Linked DNA regions of Homo sapiens. The protein of the gene in region 1 interacts with the protein of each later gene in a pairwise test. Each region holds a gene or a part of one and is shown in the gene's direction. Other genes may lie near its edges.

The links.
Region 2: the proteins of GOLPH3 (region 1) and ARL6IP1 interact in binary tests that used the Homo sapiens proteins (3 or more experiments, as listed by UniProt).

The regions. Positions count from the first base shown.
Region 1 is NC_000005.10:32,124,206-32,127,090, reverse strand, and holds the end of GOLPH3 (Golgi phosphoprotein 3), read left to right. Parts: intron 1-454; coding exon 455-879; 3' UTR 880-2,375; downstream 2,376-2,885. UniProt on the Homo sapiens protein: Phosphatidylinositol-4-phosphate-binding protein that links Golgi membranes to the cytoskeleton and may participate in the tensile force required for vesicle budding from the Golgi.
Region 2 is NC_000016.10:18,795,001-18,798,833, reverse strand, and holds part of ARL6IP1 (ADP-ribosylation factor-like protein 6-interacting protein 1), read left to right. Parts: coding exon 1-133; intron 134-789; coding exon 790-909; intron 910-3,252; coding exon 3,253-3,370; intron 3,371-3,833. UniProt on the Homo sapiens protein: Positively regulates SLC1A1/EAAC1-mediated glutamate transport by increasing its affinity for glutamate in a PKC activity-dependent manner.

The DNA.
Region 1 (2,885 bases):
GGCTTTCCTACCTCTATAGGCTGTATATGTGTAGCAGTTTCAGGAATAACATATTAATCAGGAAGCTTTTTTTTTTAGTCTATTAGTTGCAGACTGGTGTTTAATAGAAAACTTATTTGGCTATTGGCTGCTTTTTGACTTCAGCTGGAAGGAAGCTCAAACATAATATTTGGCTCATTTCCACATAAGACTAAGGGTTACTGACTCTGGTCTGAAGACTGCTTGCAGTTTAGTCGTCTGAGTGACTCCTGTGGCTGAGGATGTGCTGGGTGCTTAGAATCCAAAGGTCTGGCTAGGCTTAAGGGGTTCATGGTCTAGTTAGGGAGAAAAACATGGCAGATTTTCTTCTGTTTTTCTTGGGGCAAAATCAGATTTTACTGTTTAATAGTACAAAATTTTTGCAAAATTAGCAGATAATACTCATCATTTCTAACTTCTGAAATCTTTTGTTTAGGTGAGACATGGAATCCATTAAAATTGCATTATCAGTTAAGAAATGTACGGGAACGATTAGCTAAAAACCTGGTGGAAAAGGGTGTATTGACAACAGAGAAACAGAACTTCCTACTTTTTGACATGACAACACATCCCCTCACCAATAACAACATTAAGCAGCGCCTCATCAAGAAAGTACAGGAAGCCGTTCTTGACAAATGGGTGAATGACCCTCACCGCATGGACAGGCGCTTGCTGGCCCTCATTTACCTGGCTCATGCCTCGGACGTCCTGGAGAATGCTTTTGCTCCTCTTCTGGACGAGCAGTATGATTTGGCTACCAAGAGAGTGCGGCAGCTTCTCGACTTAGACCCTGAAGTGGAATGTCTGAAGGCCAACACCAATGAGGTTCTGTGGGCGGTGGTGGCGGCGTTCACCAAGTAACTCTGCTCGGGGTGAACCATTCTCCTTTCTCTCAAGTAAACCAGTAGTTTTTCTTCTGTTGACTTCTGGTTTTCTGTAATTTGTACTTTCCCACACTATAATTGGCTTCTGTTTTACAAAATGGTGGGTGGCTTTTTCTTTTTTGTACGTGTACAGGATTCTGCTGGTACGAGAGGCCTTCCTCTTTCTGTTTTTAAAAAAAGTTTTACTGCCATATTGGCATTCCATTCCCTGTTGCCATCCTCACTGTTACCTGTTTTGGGTTTCTGGTCTACTTTGACTTTCAAAGTACCTCCAGCCTCCTCATACGCACAGCTTTTGGATGACCTCAGCTTGAGTTTCTCCATATGTGCATGTACATCTAGCATTCTGCCTACAGTTCAGACAGAAGTCACAAAAAGGCCTTCAACTCACCAAAGGTAAATATCTGTATCTATTAGGACATTTTTTACATAGACTTCAGTTGAGATGTATACTTAGCAAAATTATTTTTAAATTGAAACAGCACAGTAAATACTTAATATAAAATGTCCCTTGGATTTTGCTTCCCATGTAAATCTATTGTATTATTACACTTGTTATAATTTTAACTATAAAGGTCCAATTGTTTCACAGAGCCAGTTTGGGATGGGCTGCATTCCATTTATGCTGTATATAGTTTGAATTATATATAAATTACCCCTTCTTCTGGCCACCCCTGCTCCCATCTTAGTATTTTGCAAGATCTAATCAGTTGTACACCTGGTGCCCCTCGCTTGCTTCAATCATGGTTATTTGATGGCAAAATCGACCTCTTGTCGCTGAAGGAGAGAGAAAAGATGTGTGTCTGATTGGTCCTGGGATTTTTTGAGCTGTGCCATTTATGGTACTCTTTGCCTATGCATCCCCTTGTTAGATTTTTTTTAAATTTTATCTTACTGTTTTTATAATTTCTATTGGGAAGAGGCTTGTGACCAGTACCAATCTTGAGTTTCTTTTTCTGTCCACAAGTAAATTAATATCTGCTCTGAAATGTCATTTATCTACTCACACATTCTTGGGGAAAAAAATCAAATGTCAGTCCTAGCAGATGTTGCATGTAAATTGGTAGCAAGTAATGATTACAACCCAGAGGATTAAGAATTTTGTAACAGAAAGCTCTATGTTTTAATTTTTTATATACAATTAGGATAATTAGCATTGTCAGACTATAAACCTTTGCTTTTTAAAGTTTATTTTTACTATTTCTTTATCACTTTATTGTATCATCACCATTGGTTTCATAATGTAAATACTATATGTTGAACAAATTAAATGTCAAAATTTTTTATTACCATAGTCCATGTTAATAGTGGGGCTTTCAGGTGTTTAGAGATTTTTTTTGTTGTTGTTAACATTCATTGCAAAAGTACTAGATGGTGTATAACTCTAGAGTTGAATTTTAAGGGATTCCCTAATATGTATACTATCTTTTTATCTGAAGTAATAAATAAACAATGATCTTGAAAGTGCCTGAATCAGAGCAAGCATGTCATTTGTGTTTTTGTATTCTCATTTAGTTTTCTTTCAAATGAAATGTTACTTACTGTAGCATTGTAATATTTTAATGCAGGGCTTGGGTTTCTTAAAGGGCCAGATAGTAGATATTTTAGGCTTTGTGAGCCGCCAGCTGTGTCAGTTGCAACTACTGAACTTTACTGAATGAAAACTGTTATAGATAATACAAATAAATAGGTTAGACTGTGTTCCAATAAAACTTTATTTGCAAAAACGGGGCTGGTCAAGGCCCCAGTTTTAATGCATGGAAAAAAGACAGATTTTTCTATCCATTGGAGTAACCTTCTTTACCTTCAAAAATGATACTGCTGGTGGTAACTACATGTAGGAACTATTAAAGTGTCTTCCCATAAAGTAGATATTGGGAAACTGATACCAGTATACTGGAATTTCTTATCGAGTGAAAAGTTCCTGTTTTTCACTTGAGAAGATGTTAGAGGTGAGGTAATAGATTTCTGAGGTATTCACTT
Region 2 (3,833 bases), on another chromosome or scaffold:
CTGCAGAGACTGCAAGTCTGGAAGAACAGCTGCAAGGATGGGGAGAAGTGATGCTGATGGCTGATAAAGTCCTCCGATGGGAAAGAGCCTGGTTTCCACCTGCCATCATGGGTGTGGTTTCTTTGGTGTTTCTGTAAGTGAGCTATTAGATTACTATGGGTTGTGCTTCTTATTAATAAAGACTTTTTAATATATAGCTTCTGTTTGTGGGAGTGCCTTAAGTCTTCTGTAATATATAACCCATAAAGAACCCATAAAGAATGTTTCTCATAAGCACTTCTAGTTTCCAGAATTTGTAGTACTTCTGTAAACTTGGTAACCTAAAGCACTTGAGTAAATCAGTGACTCGCAAACTTTTTGTCCTCCAGACACTTAAACTCTTTTTTTGTTATTATACTTTAAGTTCTGGGAAACATGTGTAGAATGTACAGGTTTGTTACATAGGTATATATACATGTGCCATGGTGGTTTGCTGCACCCATCAACCCTTCATCTACATTAGGTATTTCTCCTAATGCTATCCCTCCCCTAGTCCCCCACCTCCCTAAACTCTTAAAAAAGTGCTGAGAACTCCAAAGAGCTTTTGTCCATTGATATATACTTAACCACTGCAGCTATGATATCAGCATGTCACAAAGCCTCTGGAAAGCCACTTGTGAGAAAATTAGAAGAAAAATGGCAAATATCTCTGAGAGGCGGTGAATAGTTAAGTGAATAGTTAAGTTAGACATGTTTAGTTAGGAATAATAATGACTATGTTTTTCTAACCTTTATTAATTTTTTTAACAGGATTATCTACTATCTAGATCCATCTGTTCTGTCCGGCGTTTCCTGTTTTGTTATGTTTTTGTGCTTGGCTGACTACCTTGTTCCCATTCTAGCGCCTAGAATTTTTGGCTCCAATAAATGGTAGGTAGCATAATGATTTGGCAGTCTCATTTTTGTGTAGTTACTGAACTTGGTGGCTGTGATTAGTATGCTGTAAATAAGCAGAGATAATTGTCTAACCATCAGACACCTAAGCATTAGATTTATTGCTTTTATGTGAAGAATATTGTAACTGATTTGAATATAAACTATGAATTTTCTGTACTCCATAGTTCTTTTATGGTAAATGCACATATACATTTTTACATTTCCATTGATATTTAGGATAGTATAATAACTTCACAAATTATTTTTGAATGAATACAGAAAAGGAAACTGGCAGATTTTCATTCACATTCATTTAGCAATTATTTATTAAATGCCTACTGTGGCAGGCCCTGTAAAGTACTGTGAAATATTTTGACTTTTAAGATTGATCTTGTGTTAAGGCTGAGATACTGAGACACTGAGGCAGTGGAATGGCAGTTAACAAAGTGAATACCAAGTGTTTCCGAAGAGGTTCAAGCTGTATACACATGGGTTGCTGATTTTATTTATACCATTCTCTTTTTTTTTTTTTTTTTTGAGATGGAGGCTCGCTCTGTTGCCCAGGCTGGAGTGCAGTACGCTCTTGGCTCACTGCATGCTCCACCTCCCAGGTTCATGCCATTCTCTTGCCTCAGCCTCCCGAGTAGCTGGGACTACAGGTGCCCACCACCACACCTGGCTAATTTTTTTTTTTTTTATTTTTAGTAGAGACGGGGTTTCACCATGTTAGCCAGGATGGTCTCGATCTCCTGACCTTGTGATCCGCCCGCCTCGGCCTCCCAAAGTGCTGAGATTACAGGCGTGAGCCACCGTGCCCGGCCTATTTATACCATGAGGTTGCTTATGAACTCCTCAGATATAGTTAAGTGGATAAGGATCATATTAAAAGTATTTTAACTTTCTCTAGCATGTTGAGTTTTGATTCAAATAATCAGCCAAAATAGAAGTTGGAATAGATATTTTCTTCTCAGCTGCTATTCTATCCTTGGCTGTTTATTTTATTTGGTTAGTATTCTACTTGTGCCTTTGGTTGTTTGTATCTCAGAGGATAGCAAATTGCAAAATAATTCTGTAAATATAAGAATTTTAAATGTGTACCTTATGGATCTTTAAGAACAAATTCAAAGTTTGCTTAAATTATGATATAATTGACAATATTTAAAGGTGTTTCCCCCAACAGCAGAATGGATTAGTGTTAGGAACTGTCCAAATTGTTTTTCACTTGCAGTAATGAATCAATGTTGTTGGCTCTTTTGGGCAAGTTTCTGAATGTGCAGTATAACAGAGTTAGCAAAGGAAATAAATCACTGACCTTGGCCTTATTAGCCAGATAACATTCCAGTCTGCTAATTTATAACTCCTAGAGGAAAGTTTGCAGAAATAACCACTGATAGTTTCGTGATGTGACTCAGTTATTGATAGAGCAGATTTTGTTTATTTTTTGATCTTACAAGGAAGAAAGAATACTCTTTTGCATAGCCACAATCTAGCCTTGACCATGGGCAAGAAATAACATCTCATTGTTGAAAAGAAGTTCCAGGGCTCAGCAGAAATCCTTGTACTTTATCTATCACTGCAGTTTTACAGAGATGAGGGCTAGAGAAGAGAAGGCAACACATCCCTCAGCACAGGGCAATAATAGCAGCCATTATAGCTGTGTAGCGAAGACAGTGCAAAGGCAATTAAAAAAATCAGAACCAAGAAAAACATTATAAATATAAAAGGTTTTCTTGGAGGGTCTCTTGTTGGATTTTTACTGCTGTGTTGTTTGTTGATTATATTTTCCCTCCCTAGGGATAAATTTACAAAGAAGAATTTAGATTTGAGCTGTTTATTGCTGCCTTGTCATCAGATGTATGAAGCCCAGTTGGGGGTGTTATGTGTTAAATGCCAGTAGTTAGTATCTTACTAAGGAGTGTTCAAATACAGTTGTTCGGTGGGATTCTGGTAGGTATAGTGCAGCATTTACTAGGATCTAAAGAATATTTAGGAATAGCAAAATCAAATTTATACTGATTTCTTTATGGCCCATAGAAGTCATGAGTCTTTTACTACCATTAAATAAATGTGGCTTCAGAGCCAGAGATGATCCTTTCTTTATCACACGCACACACACACACACTCTCTCTCTCACACACATAGTTTATGTAAATACTTACTCCTGTGCTATAAAAGGTGTCTTAATGGTGGAAGGATTTTTTCACCTACATAAGATAATGGTGAAACATTGTTTTTATTTTTATTTTCTTTAGAAGATAGCTCTTAAATTGAACAGGGTGTCATGTTTTTGTCTACTGTAACGATTTGTTTATAGCAAAAGGCAAATTTCTTTTCTAGGACCACTGAACAACAGCAAAGATTCCATGAAATTTGCAGCAATCTAGTAAAAACTCGACGCAGAGCTGTGGGTTGGTGGAAACGCCTCTTCACACTAAAGGAAGAAAAACCTAAGATGGTACTTTTTTTGCTTTGACTTAAGTACAGTAAAATTTTAAGATTTGAGTCAATTCGCCTTTTTGTCTTAATAGCTATAATTTGAAAATTATTCATTGGTTAATTCCTAAGTACATTCATAAATGTTTACCTGTATTAATTAGACTGAATCATTTTAAAGTTAAAAATTACATTTTTGCATTTAATTTTTTATTCTAATAAAACAAAATTCTTCTGTTTCATTTTTCTTACTGAAATAATAGTAAAAGACATATACTTAGAAAGCATCTGTTTAGGCCGGGCACAGTGGCTAATGCCTATAATCCCAGCTACATGGAAGGCTGAGGATCACTTGAGCCCTGGAGGTCGAGGCTGCAGTGAGCTGTGTTTGCGCAGTGAGCTGTTTGCACCACTGCACTCCAGCCTTTGTGACAGAATGAGACTCTGTCTCAAAAAAAAAAAAAAAAAAGGAAAGCATCTGTTCA